4 linked regions of the Homo sapiens genome follow. The protein of the gene in region 1 purifies or fractionates together with the protein of each later gene. This does not show direct contact. Each region holds a gene or a part of one and is shown in the gene's direction. Other genes may lie near its edges. The genes, in order: SLC35D2, RAB39A, XPOT and MARCHF5.

The links.
Region 2: the proteins of SLC35D2 (region 1) and RAB39A purify together in Homo sapiens (affinity purification with mass spectrometry; one large-scale study listed by BioGRID and IntAct). This does not show direct contact.
Region 3: the proteins of SLC35D2 (region 1) and XPOT purify together in Homo sapiens (affinity purification with mass spectrometry; one large-scale study listed by BioGRID and IntAct). This does not show direct contact.
Region 4: the proteins of SLC35D2 (region 1) and MARCHF5 purify together in Homo sapiens (affinity purification with mass spectrometry; one large-scale study listed by BioGRID and IntAct). This does not show direct contact.

The regions. Positions count from the first base shown.
Region 1 is NC_000009.12:96,341,587-96,347,177, reverse strand, and holds part of SLC35D2 (nucleotide sugar transporter SLC35D2), read left to right. Parts: intron 1-1,776; coding exon 1,777-1,879; intron 1,880-3,181; coding exon 3,182-3,274; intron 3,275-5,591. UniProt on the Homo sapiens protein: Nucleotide sugar antiporter transporting UDP-N-acetylglucosamine (UDP-GlcNAc) and UDP-glucose (UDP-Glc) from the cytosol into the lumen of the Golgi in exchange of UMP.
Region 2 is NC_000011.10:107,960,467-107,964,825, forward strand, and holds the end of RAB39A (ras-related protein Rab-39A), read left to right. Parts: intron 1-1,479; coding exon 1,480-1,906; 3' UTR 1,907-3,016; downstream 3,017-4,359. UniProt on the Homo sapiens protein: The small GTPases Rab are key regulators of intracellular membrane trafficking, from the formation of transport vesicles to their fusion with membranes.
Region 3 is NC_000012.12:64,417,187-64,422,777, forward strand, and holds part of XPOT (exportin-T), read left to right. Parts: intron 1-859; coding exon 860-929; intron 930-1,689; coding exon 1,690-1,908; intron 1,909-2,883; coding exon 2,884-3,068; intron 3,069-3,166; coding exon 3,167-3,335; intron 3,336-4,048; coding exon 4,049-4,285; intron 4,286-5,591. UniProt on the Homo sapiens protein: Mediates the nuclear export of aminoacylated tRNAs. In the nucleus binds to tRNA and to the GTPase Ran in its active GTP-bound form. Docking of this trimeric complex to the nuclear pore complex (NPC) is mediated through binding to nucleoporins.
Region 4 is NC_000010.11:92,344,832-92,350,422, forward strand, and holds part of MARCHF5 (E3 ubiquitin-protein ligase MARCHF5), read left to right. Parts: intron 1-4,517; coding exon 4,518-4,701; intron 4,702-4,839; coding exon 4,840-5,006; intron 5,007-5,591. UniProt on the Homo sapiens protein: Mitochondrial E3 ubiquitin-protein ligase that plays a crucial role in the control of mitochondrial morphology by acting as a positive regulator of mitochondrial fission and as an important regulator of immune response.

The DNA.
Region 1 (5,591 bases):
GGGTAGGTAAGAAATTTGGAAGACCCTTATTTTGAAGAAAATCCTTTTGAGACAGAGTTTCGCTCTTGTTGCTCAGGCTGGAGGCACGATCTTGGCTCACCACAACCTCTGCCTCCCTGGTTCAAGTGATTCTCCTGCCTCAGCCTCCCAAGTAGCTGGGATTACAGGCATGTGCCACCACGCCCAGCTAATTTTGTATTTTTAGTAGAGATGGGATTTCTCCATGTTGGTCAGGCTGGTTTCGAACTCCCGACCTCAGGTGATCCACCCACCTTGGCCTCCCAAAGTGCTGGGATTACAGGCAGGAGCCACCACGCCTGGCCAAAAATCCTTTTTTTTTTTTTTTTAAATTGTGACTGAGGGAGAATTCTGACTTATGATGACTAAAATTAATTTCCCTTCTCACAAATATATTTGTAGATAATAATGTGTGGAGGCGTCAAGCAAAAATCCAATTTAATTTGCATTCAGATTTTGGTAGAATTTTTGCTCTGTGTTTCATTCTCTTTGGTTAGAAATAATCTTATTTTGACATTGAAGAAGATTCAGGGTATGCCACTGCAAACTGTGCCACTGTGAGATCAGGATTATTTTGAGCCGAGAAAGATTGAGAATCAACAGATCAGGAAGTTTGCTGCCTTCTCCTTTCTGCCTAAAAACCAGGGAATCAATTTCCCATTGTGAAGAGGACCGCTTCTCCCATCCCAGGAAGAGGAGAGCAATTCCTATCACTGGACGGAGGGTCGGCCCTGAGATGCATCTGCATAAACAAACCCTAAAAGAACCCTTCTCGTTCATCATTTCCACCATAGGTTTCCTAGTTACTTTCTAACAATTACACAATTTATTTGTTCCTTGAAGCCCAAATCCTCTTTCCTTTTTAAAACGTAAGTCCCCAAGTCTAACTGTTTCTTTGAGTTTCACTTCTTTTCTGTGAACTTCAGGGAACATATTAATAAGATTCGTATTCTCTTTCTCCTGTTAATCTGTCTTTTATCAGTTAAATTAGCAGGCCCCCAGACACTGAATCTAAGAGGGTACAGGAAAAGGTTTTCCTCCCTGGCAATGTGTATTTCTGAATTATGACATGGCCTAGCACTGTCTGCAACGATCAAGTGCAGGTGGGTGGGCCACATCATGGCTCAGCTATTGCTCTTCCTCTTGTTCCTGTCATAGATCCCCAAACGTATTTATGCTGGTGCTATTTATAATGGAAATGGAAGAGAAGCTGTTTCAAAAGAATGGGAAGAAAGGAGCCATAGAGGGGTCACATAGAAGGATGGATACCTGCCTTGCCATTTTGATGGACGGGGTGCGGTTTGGGCACCAGATGGAGGTGTGGCTGCCTCATGCGACCCCTCTTACCCAGCCTCTGCCCAGCTGCCCCTCACTGGCTGCACCCTGGAGGTGGCCCTGTTCACTACAATAAGCAGAGCCCCTGGGTGGATCGGGGCGAATCACTCCCCTTAGGAAAGTCAGGGCTCACCAGTTATTATGTGGATTCATCAGCTAGCGAAAGAAAGGGGTTGCAGTTGAAGGAAGATGCTTAATGTCGCTCTGGTTTTAAGCCATTCACGATTGAGTCGAAGCCATCTGATGGGCTGGTTTGGTTTTTGTCTGGAGGCAAAGCAGAGGAATTAATCATTCACTACCACAAAGCGGGGAAAGTGTGCCACAGAAAAGTGGGTTTGATTAGGGAAAGGTAGATCAGGCGGGCTTGGAGGCCAAGTTGTGAGTTTTTGAGTAATCATTCTCCCTTTGTGGTCTCCCTCCCAGGTCTGACCTTGCTTTTAACTTAGAAGGCTATATTTTTGTATTCCTGAATGATATCTTCACAGCAGCAAATGGAGTTTATACCAAACAGAAAATGGACCCAAAGGTACCAGACCTTGCCTATGGCTTTTTGGCTCTGTCATCTGGCCCCTAGAATTATATGAAAAATGAAAATGAATGTGTACAGTTGGAATGTAATTTAATTTATATAATATGACCTGTAAATTCCTTATTTTCAATTATCTTGTCTGTATAAGTTATTATTTGCGAAATTTTGGGTGAAAATGAGATATGATGGGAAAAGCCACTAGTTTAGATGCACACTCAGAACATATAAAAAGGGATTATTCTGAAAGGCAAATTAATTTTTTTACCAGCATCATCAATCACCAAGGCAAGGTCAGGGGTCACGATATTTGTTCAGAGAGCGCTAGTTTGGAGTCTGGAGATGTGGGCTACAGACACAAGTTTTTCTACTTACTGACTGTTGTGACTTTGAACCTTAACTTCTCCAAACTTCAGTTTCCTTATCTGTGGAATGAAATGACTGCAATGGATAATTTGTAAGGTCTTGTCCAGCAATAGCTGCTGCTTCTGATGATGAGGGGTGGGGCAGAGGAGCTTTGCTTTTGTGTGGCTGCCTGTCACGTGGAGGCCCCATCCCTCCCCCTCCCCCATCCCTCCCCCACCCCCAGCTGTTACAAGGAAGCCCGGAGGATGAGTCAGGCATATGTTTCTTTGTTCCAAGCTCTTTGTGCTGGATGAGGGAGTTCACTCTGACCAACAGGCTTATTTCCATGAGCTATTTTTTTTAATCTGCTCTTTTTTTTTTTTTTTTATCTGCTCTGTTTTTTTTTTTTTTCCCCTGCATGGCCTTTTTTTTTTTTTTTTTTTTAACGGTAGAAGTTTTGCAAAAACAGGTTTGTTGTCTTTTGAGGATCACAATATGTCATCCTTTTTTGAAAATGGTGAAGTGGTGTGGCCACTTTAATGAAAGTAAATATATGATGCTGCTGTCCTTTAATGGAAAGAGCAGATGTTTTTAAAGAGTTTTGTTTATATTAACATTTTTAATGTTCTTTATTTTGTTCCAGATTTCCCATTTTGAATTACATGCTTTAAAAAAAACCCCACATAATTAGAATGCTGGAGATGAATGGAACCCTAGAGGCTTCCCACTGCCATGCGTTTTCTCTGTAGTTTTGGTGTAAAACAAATGTTTATTCCAAAATCTCAGTACCCTCAAACCAAAGCATTTTATGTCAGAAATTTGCTGAAAATATTCCAAAAGAGTTGCTCAGAATGCACATTCTAACTTCGCATGAATATGCAGTTGTATAAATGGCTCCAGGAAATCTGTGCCTCACGTTTCTGAAACTGAGTGGTTTTTACATTTTTGTTTTTGCAGGAGCTAGGGAAATACGGAGTACTTTTCTACAATGCCTGCTTCATGATTATCCCAACTCTTATTATTAGTGTCTCCACTGGAGACCTGCAACAGGTGAGCTGATGACAATCATTACAGTTTTCCTTAGCTGGCTTTAAAAAATTTAATATTTAACATTTGATATGCACTGAAACAAAAAGTGTAAAGTTAGCTAGGACTACCAGGAGGGTACATGATAACAAGATGTTTGATATCCCTAGTAACACCTTTTGGCACTACCCTTGCATTGGCATTTATCCTTAGCCACATATCAAGGAGAGCCAAGAACTCTGGACTTGGTACTTTTTGGAAAACAACAATACAAATCTGAGTTTGAATTCCATATCCCCCTTTGCTAATGTGGGGACCCTGGGAGAGCTACTTACCCTAGAAGGGGATTTTGATCATTTTAAAACATAGGTTTGTTTATTTATTTGTTACTTTCTATTACGGACATTTTGAAACATGCACAAAATAGAGTAATTCAATGAGTTGTCAGGGACCCACCACCTAGCTTCAACACTTTGGCATTTTGCCATCTTATTTTATCTGTCCTCATCCATCCCCAGCTTTTTGTTCCTCTGGAGTATTTTAAAACCTATCCCAGCCATCACGCCATTTTACCTCTAAATATTCCAGGATCCACATTTGAATTTTGGGAAGGTGTTGTTCTTTCAGCATTTGCCCTGAAACCGTATCTGCTGCTGGTGAGAGACAAATAAAATGGTAAATTAGTGGTAAGATCTGAGGCCCAGTGGAGCGGTGGAGGCCAAGTCTCTCAGGACGTGTGGACATTCTCCATAGTGACAGCTCCAGTGGCCACCCCGAAGGGTGCAAGCCCGGACTTCTTCAGGAAGTCGCGGGCCACACAGCCTCTGAGAACTTTGCTGATGTGTAAGTGACTGTGAGAAACGAGATGCGATGGGCAAAACCCTCCTCAGCGGGACCTCCACCCACAGACTCGACTCCGGACACAGCCCTGACCAGCCAGGCGATAACCCCGTCATTGCTGGCCTGGGGCTGGGGCAGCACCCATTTACCCATGGACAGGACAGTGTTTCCATATTTAGCAATCAGCATGGGTGTATGTTGCCCACCAGTTGAAAGTCAATCCCATTTGCAGCTCTTTTAGGGTCTGAGTGACTCTGAAAGGCTGCAGGCTGCTGTGGACTCCTGGGCAGCTCCTTGTTCTTTCTCCAGCTGGACTTTCTCACTTGTCCAATTCTCTTCCCAGAAGGAGGGATCAGCAGAAGGGCTTAGCAACCTCGTCCCCGGGCACAAACAGCCATTTCCACGGGTTTATATGGAAAACTACCAAGTGGCACCAATCTCGATAAAGAGCTCTCTTTTTCGGGTTATTTAGAACGTTGTGAACCTGAGCCTCCCTGTTAATTCCGTTTTGGAAGATAAAGCGGGCACCTGCACCTCTCTAGTAAGAATGAGCAGGGCATGATACCTGAAAACACAGTATTTGTTTTTCAGCTACCATCAATCAATTTTAAACTGAGTCAGTGCTCCAACATTACACAAAACAAAATTATGAACTCTTGGCCAGGCGAGGTGGCTCACACCAGTAACCCCAGCACTTTGGGAGGCCGAGGCAGGCAGATCACCTGAGGTCAGGAGTTTGAGACCAGCCTGGCCAACGTGATGAAACCCCATTTGTAGAGAGTATTTTTAGTAGTAGTAAAAATACAAAAATAAGCCAGGCATGGTGGCGGGTGCCTGTAATCCCAGCTTCTCAGGAGGCTGAGGCAGGAGAATCACTTGAACCTGGGAGGCAGAGGTTGCAGTGAGCCGAGATCACGCTATTGCACTCCAGCCTGGGTGACAGAGCGAGACTCCATCTCAAAAAAAAAGGAAAAAAGATAAAAAGAAAAATTATGAACTCTTAATGAAGTGGTCCTAGAGGCTTGTCTCCTTTCATTATTATAGAAACGAGGGTTTTTTTTTGTTTTTGTTTTGTTTTGTTTTTTTAAATCAGCGGAGTTTATCTGTTCTGAAATTCTGGTATTTTAGATATATATATATTTTTTTTTTCCAAAAATATAAATCTAGAAACTCCTAAATATTGTTAAAACATCTCACTGGGGCTAAAAGCATATTTCCCCATGGCAACAACACTATGAAAGGCATAGTGACCAGAAACTGAATTTTAGGTTCTTTATGAGTAAAATAGATTAGGTGTATTATGTTAATAATGTATAACATTGTTTCAGAAGAAATATGTGTTCTTACATCAACGTCATTGACTTATAAACTTGTAGCATGGTGTTTTCAGAAGTTGCCCTCTGCCTGTAATGATTATCATGTGGAATCTTCTGCTTTCTCATGTGATAATAATAATAGCTAATACTTGCTGAGGGCTTATTATGTCAGACATTTTTCAAAG
Region 2 (4,359 bases), on another chromosome or scaffold:
GGGTAGAAGATATTCCAAATAGATAAAACAACATGTGGAGGGGCAAGAAACGTAAAACAGTATAGCCTTGACACCTTGCCTCATGATTCAGCCAGGAAACAGATGGCACAATTGTAGGTTAGCCGAAAAGAGTTTAATGAAGTGACTATTTCCAGAGATACAATCAGCATCAAGGATACTAATAAAGGATGGTGAAGCATTCAGAGCTAGCAACAGTGGGAAGCCATTGACCACCTGGTTGGAAGAGGAGAGGACAGAGAATGGTATTACCAGAACGTGGTGACAGCTGTAGCCATGGGAGAGGGTCCACCCTACAGAAACCCTGACTAGAAGCAGAGGAATACCACCACTGCTAAGCCACAGCCCAGCAGAAGCAAACAGAGGGATAAATACTCTGACTTCTCTTTCCTTCTGTCTCCAGCCAGCGCCTCCCATTGGCTGAACCCCCCTGCAAGCTGGAGGGCAAGGGAGTTTGGGAAAGCTTTTTGTGAAGGACAGCTTCCTCAGGCCTAGAGAAGGATGGAGACTAGATCTGGAGAGACATACAGAGAATCGTTAGCACACCTCAGATTCATATCCCAGGTCCATACAGTCTCCTGTTTCTTGAATAGGTGCAACACAAGACTGTACCTGTAACTAATACTGTGACAAGTCTGCTGTCTTCGTGAGTTTGGGCTGTTATAACAAATTACCACAGAATGGGGATTTAAACAACAGAAATTTAGTTCTCACAATTTTGGAAGCTGGAAGTGGATGATCAGGGAGATCCTGGTGCCAGCATGGTCAGGTTCCAGTGAGGGCCCTCTTCTGGGTTGCAGACAGCCACCTTGTATCCTCACATGGTAGAAAGAGGACTAGAGTGCTCTCTGGGGTATCTTTTTTTAAGGGCACTGGTCCCATTCACGAGGGTTCCACCCTCATGACCTAAATTACATCCCAAAGGCCCCTCCTCCTAATCCTAATACCACCACATTAGGGTTAGCATTTCAACATAAGAATTTGGGAGGGACACAGACATTCGATCCATACTACAGCCCTTGTTTCTTTTTCCTAAACTGATAGAGAGAAGAGTTCATTAAATTTTATGACAAGTGAGATTCTTAAGATCTAGTTTGTTGTACAACCTGTGCCCTTTACTCAGTCTTTCAATATGCTTATTTTTAACCACAATGATGTAATAATCTATCAGATTTTTGAAAGCAAAAACAAATAATCAGACAGTATGAGATGACATAGCATGTAAGTGCTTATTTGTCTAACTAAAAATAACTACTACTTTCGTGTTCTGTCAGTGTATGAAACTTGCGTATTAGTCCCATAGAATATTTTTGTTCACTTGAGATACCTCATATTTTATTTATAAATTCTAGTTAAATCATATTAAGATATCTTCAAATGTTATTATGGTGCTAGATTGTTGGAAGGAGAAGAAAAAGAACAAGTTGTCCTTATACAACCTTTTTTCTCTTCATTTTTCAGATCAATAACCCGATCTTATTACCGCAACTCAGTTGGTGGATTTTTAGTATTTGACATTACTAACCGACGATCTTTTGAACATGTGAAAGATTGGCTAGAAGAAGCAAAAATGTATGTACAGCCATTTCGGATTGTATTTCTGCTAGTGGGACATAAATGTGATTTAGCTTCACAACGTCAAGTTACAAGGGAAGAAGCTGAAAAACTGTCAGCAGACTGTGGAATGAAGTATATAGAAACCTCAGCAAAGGATGCTACAAATGTTGAAGAATCCTTCACAATCTTGACGAGAGACATATATGAACTTATTAAAAAGGGAGAAATTTGTATTCAGGATGGCTGGGAAGGGGTTAAAAGTGGTTTTGTTCCAAATACTGTGCATTCTTCTGAGGAAGCAGTAAAGCCCAGGAAAGAATGCTTCTGCTGACTTCAAACATGCTGAAGAACTAACAGGAACAGATTGGGTGTCAGTTCAGGATAAATACCAACATTAACAGCAGAATGATGCAATGAAAGAATTTAAAAAGGTTACAAACCCACACCAATACTATTTTATAAGGTATTTGATTCAGAGCATGATGCTTACTTGTTACACTACTAGATTGGGTATTTTGCTAAATTACCAAGCAAAGCAGACAATCTTTTTCTTGAAATTACCTCCATTCTTACTTTGTTAGCATACGCTGACCTTAGTGTCCAGATATGTCACTATTACTCATTTTTCTTGACAGTTCAAATGGATTTTTGTGCATATATAGTCAATTGAAAAGATTTTATCAGGAATTACATTCTCTTGAGTTAATTAATATTGAATAGCAAAATGCATTTAAATATGCACTGTTCACCTGCAGAGTAAACAATCTCAGAAGTATCGACTAGGACGTAAATAGCAGTTCCTTATATAAAGTACCAGGTTTTTTCCCCATTCTCTGGAAATGTTTGTCCTCCCTTAATTTTGCCTCAACACAAGAAAATAAGTTTTATGTCCATTTTTGTTCCCTAATTTATTGCTTCTAAAAATGCATTATGTTTTACAAAGATATCTAAGGATCCAAGCAAACTACTTTAAGCAAATATTTGTAAAATTAAAAACGGAGGACCGCTCACCAAATGTTTGAAATGTTGCTTTTTTTTTTTGAGACAGGGTCTTGTTTTGTCACCCAGGCTGGAGTGCAGTGGGGCAATCTTGGCTCCCTGCAACCTCTGCTTCCTGGGTTCAGGTGATTGTCAGTACCTTACCTCAGCCTCCTGAGTAGCTGGAACTGCAGATGTGCGCCACCATGCCCGGCTAATTTTTGTATTATAAGTAGACACAGGGTTTCATAATGTTCCCCAGGCTGGTCTCCAACTCCTCGCCTCAAGCAATTCGCCCCCCTCGGCCTCCAAAGTGCTGGAATTATAGGCATGAGCTGCCGTGCCTGGACTATCAGCAGCACATGTTTTGCTGTTACGGTGTACTGTTCGTATTTAGACAAGAAGAACAAAATTTATTTATGTATTGACATTTTCAAAGAAAGTAAATGCAATTTACTTTGAACTATTGTCAAAATTATTAATATAGGTAAACATGGAATGTTTTTAATAATAGCATTTTTGTCCAAGTAAATTTCCAAATTTCCTAATTTCCAATATGAAAAGAATGCAGAAAAGATTTTTCTGGGGAAGAAAAATTGGTTAGATGCTTGATATATTTAGCCTTCAAATTGCATTTTACAATCTCATCAGTACAAGTTAAGATAGAATAATCAATTAAGACAGTAAAATGACTTTTGAGTTTCCTAATTTTTAACTTATTGATTAAACTCTCCTGGAAGGGATATTTTGATCATAGTGTCAAATATTTTATAATGTACATTTCTATTCTGTTCTGTAAACTACTCTTAATCACAAAAGAGTACCAAGTGAAGTTTTTTGGAATCATAAGGTTTTTACTCTTAACCTTTAGTTGCTTCATTTGTTTGAAAACCAAAGTGGCATAGTAGAAAGAATATTTAATAAGAAATCAGAAAACTTGGTTACCAATATCTAACCATGAGTAAGTCACTTGACCTCTCTAAGCACCATTTTTCTTATCTGTAAAATTAGGCTAATAACCCCATTTATTAGTGTGTTTCATGGAAAATTATTTTGAGAATCTAGTGAATGATGCAACAAACACTTTGTAAATAGAGTAAGCATTTTGAGATTGATATGCTGCTCATGGGCATACTATTATATTTACAATGGGTGAGAATTTTGTTTTCTCATGATTTTTCCTTTCGTTCCTATGCAGAGGGAGTAGAAAAAGATGTGTGTCTTCATGGACCCGTAGGAATTCTTGATTGATGCATATCCTCTGCTTATTTTTTTTGGCGGGGGTGGGGGGCGAGGGGGCCGAGGTCTTGTTCTGTTGACCAGGGTGGAGCGCAGTGGCATGATCACAGCTCACTGCATCCTGGACCTCCCAGTCTCAAGCGAGCCTCCCACTTTAGCCTTCTGCTAGCTGGGACCACAGGTGCACGCCACCACGCCTGGCTAATTTTTTATTTTCTATAGAGAAGGGGTCTCCCTATGTTGCCCAGGGTATAGGTCTCATACGCCAGGGCACAAGTCTCATATGCCAGGGCACAAGCAATCCTTCTGCCTCGGAGTCCCAAAGTCCTGGAATTACAGGCATGAGCCCCTGCGCCCGCTTCCTCTGCTTTTTTTACCCTGAGCTATTGTTCCTGCAAAGTGGAAATAATAGAGAGGGACGTTCCTGCAGACTTAACCCAATCAAAAGTCACGTTTGTGCTTTTTGTGCATCTTTGAAGTAAATATTTAATTGTATTTTCAAATACTTGTACATTTTCTGGGTTCATGTATTTTTAATTGTGCTTATGGAGAGATTATAAATTATAA
Region 3 (5,591 bases), on another chromosome or scaffold:
AGACTGGGTGACAGCGAGACTCCGTCTCAAAAATAAAAAAAGTGCTGAGTTTGTTGGTTACACATAAAAATCCAAGGCTGGGCGCAGTGGCTCATGCCTATGATCTCAGCACTTTGGGAGTCCAAGGCAAGAGGATCGTTTGAGCTCAGGAGTTTGAGACCAGCCTAGGCAACATAGTGAGACCTCATCTCTACAAAAATTTTTTTAAAAAATTAGCCAGGCATGATTGCGCGCTTCTGTATTCCCAGCTACTGGGGAAGCTGAGGCCAGGAGGTTGAGGCTCCAGTGAGCCATGATGGTGCCACTGCACTTCAGCCTGGGCAATACAGCAAGACCTTGTCTCAAAAAAAAAAAAAAAAATGAAAATCCAGATATTTCACAGAAAAATCTAGATTTCCAGCTTTTCTGGAAAAGTCAGAATATCTGGTAACACCAGGCCTGTTTTTCTACATGACAATTCTCTCTTAGAGTTAAGTAGCTGCATGGGCACTTGTGTTCAGAATCTCTGACTTACTAATTAAGCAAAATAACAAATCACTACTGAGAGGATTCCTAGTTCACCTATTGGTTTATTCTGTAGATCACAGACCACAAAACATTTTCATTCGAAAAATTGTGTAGCCATCATTTGTTTCAACATGAACAGAATCACAAATTAAAGATTGATATTGATGCCCTACCTGCCACTCTTGTCCTTATCTTTAAAGCAATGATGAGTGGCATTATCAGTTTATGTTAGGGAACTTCAGATAATTGAGAGCTATACAAATTTTCCCTTTCAAATATATGAGGCTGTTATTTTTTACAACCATAGACACCAAATATAGCCATTATTCTTTTTCTTCTCTATTTTGAACAGATACTCAGAACTAACCACTGTTCAACAACAGCTAATTAGGGAGACGCTCATATCATGGCTGCAAGCTCAGGTAAAATCATAATTTCATTCAGTACCTCAAATTATTAGATATTTAAACTTATTTTTTGCAAGAGTTTGGAACTTTACCTCAAAGATTTTCATCAGTGTTCCTCCATTTGATTTCATAGCTTTTTTAAAAGGTGCTGGTTTTAAAGATCATGGAAGTGGTAGTTTAGCAATAATTTAATATTATATCAATGACTGAAATGGTCATAGTTTCCATGACACATTGTGGAAACTTTGGTTTTAAAATGTAGTTGTTTTTAACTACTTGACAAATGCTGCTTTCTGTTTGGCTCTTAAAGGTGAGCCCTCCTGGACAGCCTCTCCACCAGAGCCCTTTATAAAGGGCCAGTTGAGTTCTTTTCAGTTAATTTTAGCTAATCTTAACACATAAAGCAGTTGTGTAGCTAGAGTTTTCATTTTCCTTAAAGAGCAAGTAGAGGAAAATTTTTTTTTCTTCTTAGAAGAAATTATAGGAACTATTAAAACTCTGCACATGAAACTTTTCTGTCAAAGTGTAAGAATGAGGAATAATCATTACAGCCTTTAATGGTTCATTTAATTGTTCTTCATCTGGTCAATCACTTAAATACTTTTGATAATTTTGATAATCATAATTATCAAAATAATTTTGAAGAGTATTTGTTGCATAGTTTATCTGGGCCATGTTGACATTTGATGAAACTTTGCCTTTTAATAAGACAACTGGTGTTTCTGGGTCTTTTCAATTTACATTTAATTTTATGGACTGTTTCTCTGTTTGTCAGATGCTGAATCCCCAACCAGAGAAGACCTTTATACGAAATAAAGCCGCCCAAGTCTTCGCCTTGCTTTTTGTTACAGAGTATCTCACTAAGTGGCCCAAGTTTTTTTTTGACATTCTCTCAGTAGTGGACCTAAATCCAAGGGGAGTAGATCTCTACCTGCGAATCCTCATGGCTATTGATTCAGAGTTGGTGGATCGTGATGTGGTGCATACATCAGAGGCAAGTAACTAACCATGAATTTTTTATATTTAATGTAAGTTTTGTAGGTGATAATGGGCACATAATAAAAAGAGCAGGGAAGTTTTCTTTCTTGAGGTAAACTTTCTTAAGTTATATAATTATAAATTTACCTGATGTTTTGGATTTTATTTTATGAAGGAACTCAAACTTGGTTATTTTTTTTCCAGAGGTATATTGAAATTAAAGTATTACATTACATTTTTTATTTTTTTACTTTTTTGAGACGGAGTCTTGCTCTGTTCCCCAGGCTGGAGTGCAGTGGCACAGTCTTGGCTCACTGCAACCTCCGCCTCCTGGGTTCAAGCGATTCTCCCACCTCAGCCTCCCTAGTAGCTGGGATTATAGGCACATGCCACCACGCCTGGCTAATTTTTGTATTTTTTGTAGAGATTGGGTTTCGCCAGGCTGTGCTCAAACTCCTGACTTCAGGTGATCCGCCCGCCTTGCCCTCCCAAAGTGTGGGGATTACAGGCATGAGCCACTGCGCCCAGCCTAAATTTTTTTTAACTAGGCAAATACTGTAGTGACATACACGAGTTGATTTTCTTTTATGAATCTGTTGAGAAAGGTAGTCTCAATTTAATACTGCTATATAGTCCCTGAGCAAGGAAGAAGCATTGCTTAGGAGTTGTCCGTGTTGCTACTTCTGTATTCTTCATCACATAGTGTAAGTACTATGTTACTATATTGAGAAATAACTTAAAATATGCTTAAGATTTCTAAGCAGTGCTTTTTATAGTTTGTATTTACTAAGAAATTAACTCTGACACTGAGGAGTAGAACAGAAAGAGGAAATACAAAGAATCACAGGATATGATCTTAGAGCTGGTAAATAGGAAATACTGGTAGGGAATGTGTTAACAAGTCTGAAAGTTTACTCTCTGCAAGTATATTCAGATATCAAACATGATTTTGTAAGGTAATCTACTTTGCATTTGGCGTTTTGTATTTTAGGAGGCTCGTAGGAATACTCTCATAAAAGATACCATGAGGGAACAGTGCATTCCAAATCTGGTGGAATCATGGTACCAAATATTACAAAATTATCAGTTTACTAATTCTGAAGTGACGTGTCAGTGCCTTGAAGTAGTTGGGGCTTATGTCTCTTGGATAGACTTATCCCTTATAGCCAATGATAGGTAAGTATGCCTATTATTTTTATAGTATAAACTTGTAAAATACAGTATCTAAAACTCATGACTTTGAAAATGTTACAATTTTATTGTCCCATTACCAGGTTTATAAATATGCTGCTAGGTCATATGTCAATAGAAGTTCTACGGGAAGAAGCATGTGACTGTTTATTTGAAGTTGTAAATAAAGGAATGGACCCTGTTGATAAAATGAAACTAGTGGAATCTTTGTGTCAAGTATTACAGTCTGCTGGGTTTTTCAGCATTGACCAGGTTGGTAAATTTATATAAAACATTGTATGTAAAGTTGTTAGAACAAACTGGGATAGGTACTAAGTTAAATATAATAATAGCTTTTTTTCTTCTAAATGTTATAAACTCCCCTTGAGATTATAATATAAACCACTGCATCTAGCCAAAATGTTCTCAGTAGCATTCTCCTTGGAGAATGGGTTATACCAGTTCTTAAACCTGAAAGCCTGTAATTGCACATTTCTCACAAACTCTTAGGAGATGCTGACACAACTTGTTCATAGTGGAATTGAGATTTTTTGTTTTGTTTTGTTTTTTGAGATGGAGTCTCACTCTGTTGCCCAGGCTGGAGTGCAGTGGCACAGTCTCGGCTCACTGCAACCTCCGTCTCCCGGGTTCAAGTGATTCTCCTGTCTCAGCCTTCCGAGTAGCTGAGATTACAGGCGCATGCCACTACACCCGGCAAATTTTTTACCTTTTTGGTAGAGACGGGGTTTCACCATGTTGGCCAGGCTTGTCTCGAACTCTTGACCTCAGGTAATCCACCCACTTCGGCCTTCCAGAGTGCTGGGATTACAGGCATAAGCCACCGTGCCCAGCCTGGAATTGTTAAATATATGACGTCATTTTAAAATTGAATCCTGTAATTAGCACTTGATTCATATTAAAGTTCAGTTTTTCCTCTTAGCTTGGGCAGGCAGTTTTAAACAGAGATGTGTCTTGATTGCTTATAGGAAGAAGATGTTGACTTCCTGGCCAGATTTTCTAAGTTGGTAAATGGAATGGGACAGTCATTGATAGTTAGTTGGAGTAAATTAATTAAGAATGGGGATATTAAGAATGCTCAAGAGGCACTACAAGCTATTGAAACAAAAGTGGCACTGATGTTGCAGCTACTAATTCATGAGGATGATGATATTTCTTCTAATATTATTGGATTTTGTTACGATTATCTTCATATTTTGAAACAGGTAAGTTTTTGTTTTATTCTTTTTGCTCAATACATAATACAAAGGAGCCATGGAGAAGTGGAAAATATGGAAAAATTAAAAATGAGAAAATACCCATAATTCTACTACCTAAAGATATTTACTGTTAAATACTAATGTATTTCCATCTTAAAAAAAAAAGAATTGGCCAGAAAATAGTTTCAGGTTCTAAATTCAGTAGACTAACCAGCTTCAGAGGTAGTTATAGGTTTAGGTTTTTTTTTTTATTTTGAACCTGTCTTTATTTGTGAATACAGTTGAAATTTTCATAAGCATGGTTTGTTATTTTAATTTACATATACATCATTCATTTCTCATAAACAATTTTTTTTTCTTTTTTGAGACGGAGTTTTGCTGTTGTTGCCCAGGCTGGAGTGCAATGGCGTGATGTCAGCTCACCACAACCTCCACCTCCCAGGTTCAAGCGATTTTCCTGCCTCAACCTCCCAAGTACCTGGGATTACAGGCATGCACCACCACATCCAGCTGATTTTGTACTTTTAGTAGACAGGGTTTCTCCATGTTGGTCAGGCTGGTCTTGAACTCCCTACCTCAGGTGATCTGCCCACCACAGCCTCCCAAAGTGCTGGGATTACAGGTGTGAGCCACCACGCCCGGCAACAATTTTTTACAATTAAAGTTTCCCCCACTTCCAGAAAGAACTTGTAGGTGGTGTTAGTCTCCATATTATAGCATTTAGCAATTAAAATAATTAGTAACTTATCAATATGATATTAGATGAAAGCCATTTCTGTATATTTACTTTGAATTAATTGAGTCAAGTCAAACTTAAAATATGTTCCCAAATGACTTTAGTTTCTGTTTTATTGTAGTAAACATAACATGTATCTTTATGTATACTTCAAGAAATTTTATGCAGTGTGGAAAGGTATGATCACTATTGGTAATTCCATTGTATATCTCTTAATGGTTTTGTAGGCTTGTTTTGCTTTGTTTAAAAACCTTTGCAGAATATGTTATAGGTGTCTTTGTCTACATGTCAAGTTACTTACTAGAAGTGGCATTACTTGATCTTAGGTTAGGTATATTTTAAATATAGGCAGCTGCTGCTAAACTGCCCTCCAAAAAAGTTGTGTGCATGTTTTCAAAGATCTTGATTGATTACAGGCCAGGCATAATGGCTGTCACCTGTAATCCCAGCACTTGGTAAGGCTGAGGCGGGAGGATTGTTTGAGGCCAGGAGTTTGAGACCAGCCTGGGCAACATAGGAAGACTCCATTTCTATAAATAATAAAAAGAAAACTAGCCAAGTGTGGTGGCACATGCC
Region 4 (5,591 bases), on another chromosome or scaffold:
ACAATAATTTTTTTTTCTCGGCACTGTATTGAACACCTAGCACTGATGCATTTAACCCTTGCAACAATTTTATGACATAGATTATTGTTATAAATTATTCCTAGTTTACTGGTTTAGAGAGTTTACAGGTCCAGTGCCACACAGCAGAGAAGCATTAGGACTCCTGTCCCTTGGCTCCTTAAGTGAAGCCTGGTCCCAGAGGCAGCTGGAACATTTTATCCTGGAACAGTGGAACCTTAATATGTTTAGCCTAGTTCCCATTTTTGCCTCTAGTGCAAAGACAGCCCCCATTAGCATTGCCCATTCTTAATTACAGTACTTACTTATCCTTGATTCTGAGTTAAAAAAAAAAAAACCCTGTTATTTCATCACTGTTTCATCCTCTTGTTAGGATTCTGGCCAGGTGCTGTAGCTCATGCCTGTAATCCCAGCACGTTGGGAAGCTGAGGCAGGCAGAACCCTTGAGGCCAGGAGTTGGAGACCAGCCTGGTCAACATGATGAAACCCCATCTCTACCAAAAATACAAAGAAAAAATTAGGCATAGTGGCTGTATTCCCAGCTACTCCGGATGCTGAGGCGTGAGAATCGCTTGAACCTGGGAGGCAGAGGTTGTAGTGAGCCAAGATTGCACTCCAGCCTGGGCGACAGAGCAAGACTCTGTCTCTAATTAATTAATGTAGAATTCTAATAATAATTTAAAAGCTCAGACCTTAATTAAAACTGTTAGCCTTTCAGCAGCAATGAACTGCAGGCCTACCTAGATATGAAAATCTAGCTTTTAGCCCTTCTGCAGGAAAAACAAAAAATTATTTTTCTCTAAACCTGCAATTCTATAGGTCTTTTGTTTTTCTCTTTTTTTTTTTTCTTTTTTTTTTTTTTGAGACAGAGTCTCATTCTGTTACCCAGGCTGGAATGCAGTGGCGCAGTCACGGCTCACTGCATCCTCGAACTCCCTGGGCTCAGGTGATCCTCCCACCTCAGCCTCCTGCACAGCTGGGACTACATACACATGCCACCACGCCCTGCTAATTTTTGTATTTTTTGTAGAGACAGGGTTTCACCATGTTGCCCAGTCTCAAACTCCTAGACTCAAGTTACCCACCTACCTCAGCCTCCCAAAGTGCTTGGATTACAGGCGTGAGCCACTGTGCCCAGCCAGGCCTTTATTTTATACATAGATAACAAATTCTTAGACATTCTATATAATTCCTGGAGCTTACCCCAAAATCGAAGTCTTAAAAATAATGTTTTTAAATCTTGGGACAAGAAAGCAGAATGTATGTGATTACACACAGGTTCACTGACTTTGTATTGGCCAAAATTAAATCAGGCCTATTGCTTAATCACCTTTCATTTATTGCCCCTGAGTATGACTGTTTTAGCAAGTGGTGTACTGCAGGTGTTATACTACCTTATTTCTTCACAGTGTATATATTTGCACACTTGTTTGGTTTGATTTTCTCTCACTTTCAAAAGACATCTGTTTAACCTGCCATTTTAGCCCCAGCACAAAATCATTATTCAGTGAATGAATGAATGCATGTGTGAATGATGAGCCTCATCCCACTTCTAACTTGCTTGAGCATGGGGCATCTCTCTTCACTTTAGTTGTAACAAGTGAAATACTGGGCCTTTGCTCATTCTTTGCCCTATTTCCTTCTTTTTTTTTTTTTTTTTTTTTTTGAGATGGAGTTTCACTCTTGTTGCTCAGGCTGGTGCAATCTCGGCTCACTGCAACCTCCACCTCTTGGGTTCAAGCGATTCTCCTGCTTCAGCCTCCCGAGTAGTTGGGATTACAGATGACCACCACCACGCCTGGCTTGTATTTTTAATAGAAACGGGGTTCCACCATGTTGGTCAGGCTGGTCTCAAACTCCTGACCTCAGGTGATCCGCCTGCCTCAGCCTCCCAAAGTGCTAGGATTACAATTGTGAGTCACAGTGCCCAACCCCTACTTCCTTTTTGTTTCCTTATTCTTAAACACCTTATAAGGTTTTTACTGCTACCCATGAGAAACAAACTTCCTCTTGTTCGCTCTAGTCTATACCTGAATATTCACTCTTCTTTATATTTCTAAACCCAAAAAAAGGACACATAACCCGACAAAGGATTTTTTCAAATATTCTGAATTTATTTGCTAACACTTTGAGAATATTTAATCATATTTAGTTATAATGTTAGAGTGATCATTATATTGAAATTTTTAATGATATAAAAATAGAATTTCTTAGCCAGACGTGGTGGCACTCATCTGTAGTTCCAGCTACTCAGGAGGGTGAGGTGGGAAGATTGCTTGAGCCCAGGAGTACAAAGCCAACCTGGGAAACGTAGCAAGACCCTGTCTTTTTTTTTCTTTAAAGGAATTTCCTGGCCGGGCGTGGTGGGTCACGCCTATAATCCCAGCACTTTGGGGGGCCAAGGCAGGCGGATCACCTGAGGTCAGGAATTCGAGACCAACCTGGCTAACGTGGTGAAACCCCATTTCTACTAAAAATACAAAAAAGTAGCCAGGTGTTGTGCCATGTGCCTGTAATCCCATCTACTCAGGAGGTTGAGGCAGAAGAATAGCTTGAACTCAGGAGGTGGAGGTTGCAGTGAGCCAAGATCATGCCAAGACTGAAACTCCGTCTCAGATAGATAGATAGATAGATAGATAGATAGATAGATAGATAGATAGATAGATAGATAGATGATAGATATATAGATAGATAGATAGATAGATAGATAAAGAAATTTCCTGGGAAATCATTATAGGTAAAACAGTCATGGCCAGCTAACTTTTGCTACCATTATGGAATTGGGGTTTATGAAATATCATAAACCAGACCATTTCACTTTAGGGCAACTCAAAAGGATCACCTTCCACATGCAAGATAGGAAGTTGTTAAGTTCTACCTGGAGACACAGAAGAATATCAAATTCGATGACATTATTGACCATTAGGAAGAGGCTAGCCTCCTGCCCTTTAATATTACATCTTAATTAGATAAATTAACCAAGTGGAAATCTGGACTATATCCATAGCTCAAATTTGGTCCTCTCCACACACTTTCATAAAACATTTCTGGGGCCGGGCGCAGTGGCTCACGCCTGTAATCCCAGCACTGTCGGAGGCCGAGGCGGGTGGATCACCTGAGGTCAGGAGTTCGAGATCAGCCTGACCAATGTGGAGAAACCCCGTCTCTACTAAAAATACAAAAATTAGCTGGGCGTGGAGGTGCACACCTGTAATCCCAGCTACTCGAAAGGCTGAGGCAGGAGAATTGCTTGAACCTGGGAGGCAGAGGTTGCAGTGAGCCAAGATCGTGCCATTGCACTCCAGCCTGGGCAACAAGAGCAAAAAATTCCGTCTCAAAAAAAAAAAAAAAATTTTTGGCCAGGCACGGTGGCTCGCGCCTGTAATCCCAGCACTTTGAGAGGCCGAGGCAGGCTGATCACCTGAGGTCAGGAGTTCGAGACCAACCTGGCCAACATGATGAAACCTCGTCTCTACTAAAAATACACAAATTAGCTGGGCATGGTGGCATGCCCCTGTAATCCCAGCTACTCGGGAGGCTAAGGCAGAAGAATCGCTTGAATCCAGGAGCCGGAGGTTGCAGTGAGCCAAGATCACACCACTGCACTCCAGCCTGGGCAACACAGCGAGACTCCATCTCAAAAACAACAACAAAAAGAGGTAAATTTAAGGCCAAGATTGATGTGGAAGTGAAAAGGATTTTGGAGAGAGGGAAAAGGTAGAAGTTCACAAATGCCAATTTTGTATTTCTCGCCTTCTGGGATCTACACCAATTTAGAAATAGCCCCAAGACTAGGATAGGGTAAGGAAAAGATTGTATTAGCTTCATTACCCCCATAGATAGGGTACCCTAGAGTTCCTGAATTGGGAAAAATGCCTGGGATCTGTAACCAAAACTGGACCTCCTACTACAGTCCCTCAATTCTAGACCTTGGAAGTGCACTTAAGGAGGGTTAGGTCTGTAGGGTAGACACTTAGCCAGCCAGAGACATCACACCCTATCTTACACACCACTAAGTAAGGAGAAAGAGCCAAAGAGAAATGAGCTTTCAGGCCATCTCTTGAAGGCCGGTCCTACCTCTTGGCTGGCTATGCTTAATCTCCTAGAAGGAAGATCAGGAAAACAGTTGTTTTGCTGGAAGACAAATAGGACTTAGAATTATATCCCAGTTCCGTAGCCCAGTCTAACCAAATCAAATAAAGGAATAGAAGCAACAATCAGAGGTCCCCGCCCCTCTATTGTAATGTAATCAGTCTGGGTCAGCCATTTTAATTTTTATTCCTGTGTGGTATGAAATGGCTTGGGAACTTTGTTTTTCCCTTGAATGAGACATTTCTTATAAATAAATCAGGACTGATAGCTTTCCAGCTTATTTTTTAAACTTTTTATTTCTGTGTATTCTTTTGAAATTAAGCATTTTCTATTAAAAAAATAGAGCTTAACATGCAACACCTCATTTGAAAAAGAAGTAATTCTAATATATGCTATCTGTTTCACAGGTTGTAGGTCATAAAGAAGGTCTGGATGTTATGGAGAGAGCTGATCCTTTATTCCTTTTAATTGGACTTCCTACTATTCCTGTCATGCTGATATTAGGCAAGATGATTCGCTGGGAGGACTATGTGCTTAGACTGTGGCGCAAATACTCGAATAAACTACAAATTTTAAATAGTATATTTCCAGGTAAGGCACTGAACTGTGGTTGTAAAGTGCATACCAAATTGATCTTGAAGAACAATAACATGCTTTTTTAGCCATGTTTGAAGGTAGTCTAACTCTTCTGATTTATTAGCACTAACGCACTGCATTTTTTTCCTCTAGGGATAGGTTGTCCTGTTCCTCGAATTCCAGCTGAGGCCAATCCTTTAGCAGATCATGTCTCTGCTACTCGAATCTTGTGTGGAGCCCTTGTCTTTCCTACTATTGCTACAATAGTTGGTAAATTGATGTTCAGTAGTGTTAACTCTAATTTACAAAGGACAATCTTGGTAAGACGGCTTTAACATTACTTATATTACCTTGCAAAAGAGAATGAAGTGTATTTGTTTTTAAAAGGTGGGGAACTGTATAAATATTCGGTCTGTGGCTCCTATGCATTAAGCCTCTATTTGAGCCTCACTATCATTCAATAGCTTGAGTGGAAATAAAAAGAGGAGAAACCACTGCAGCAGTTCTGGCCTTTTGGAACTATGTTGTAGGTGCTTTCTCTCCTGGCATATGCATGAATCATCACACCTGTCCCTCTTGCCAGTGGGATTACAGTACTTTACGATCAGACCACCTGGTTCAAATCCCATCACAGAAATTGTCTTGCTGTGAAATCTAAATCAAATGTCTGGACTTTTTGTTCCTGTAGTATGGTGATGGTAATAATCAGGATTATTGTGAGGATTGTATAAGTACTAGCACATAGTAAGCACTCATGTTGTTTGCTATTATTGTTACTCCCACTTCTCCCCTCTGGTGGCATGTAACCTGCACGGACCTTGGAGGACTGAACAAAGGGGGCAAACGTGGGAATAAAAGACAAAGACAAGAGAGTATATTTGGAAGAAGGGGTCAGGGGGCACCTT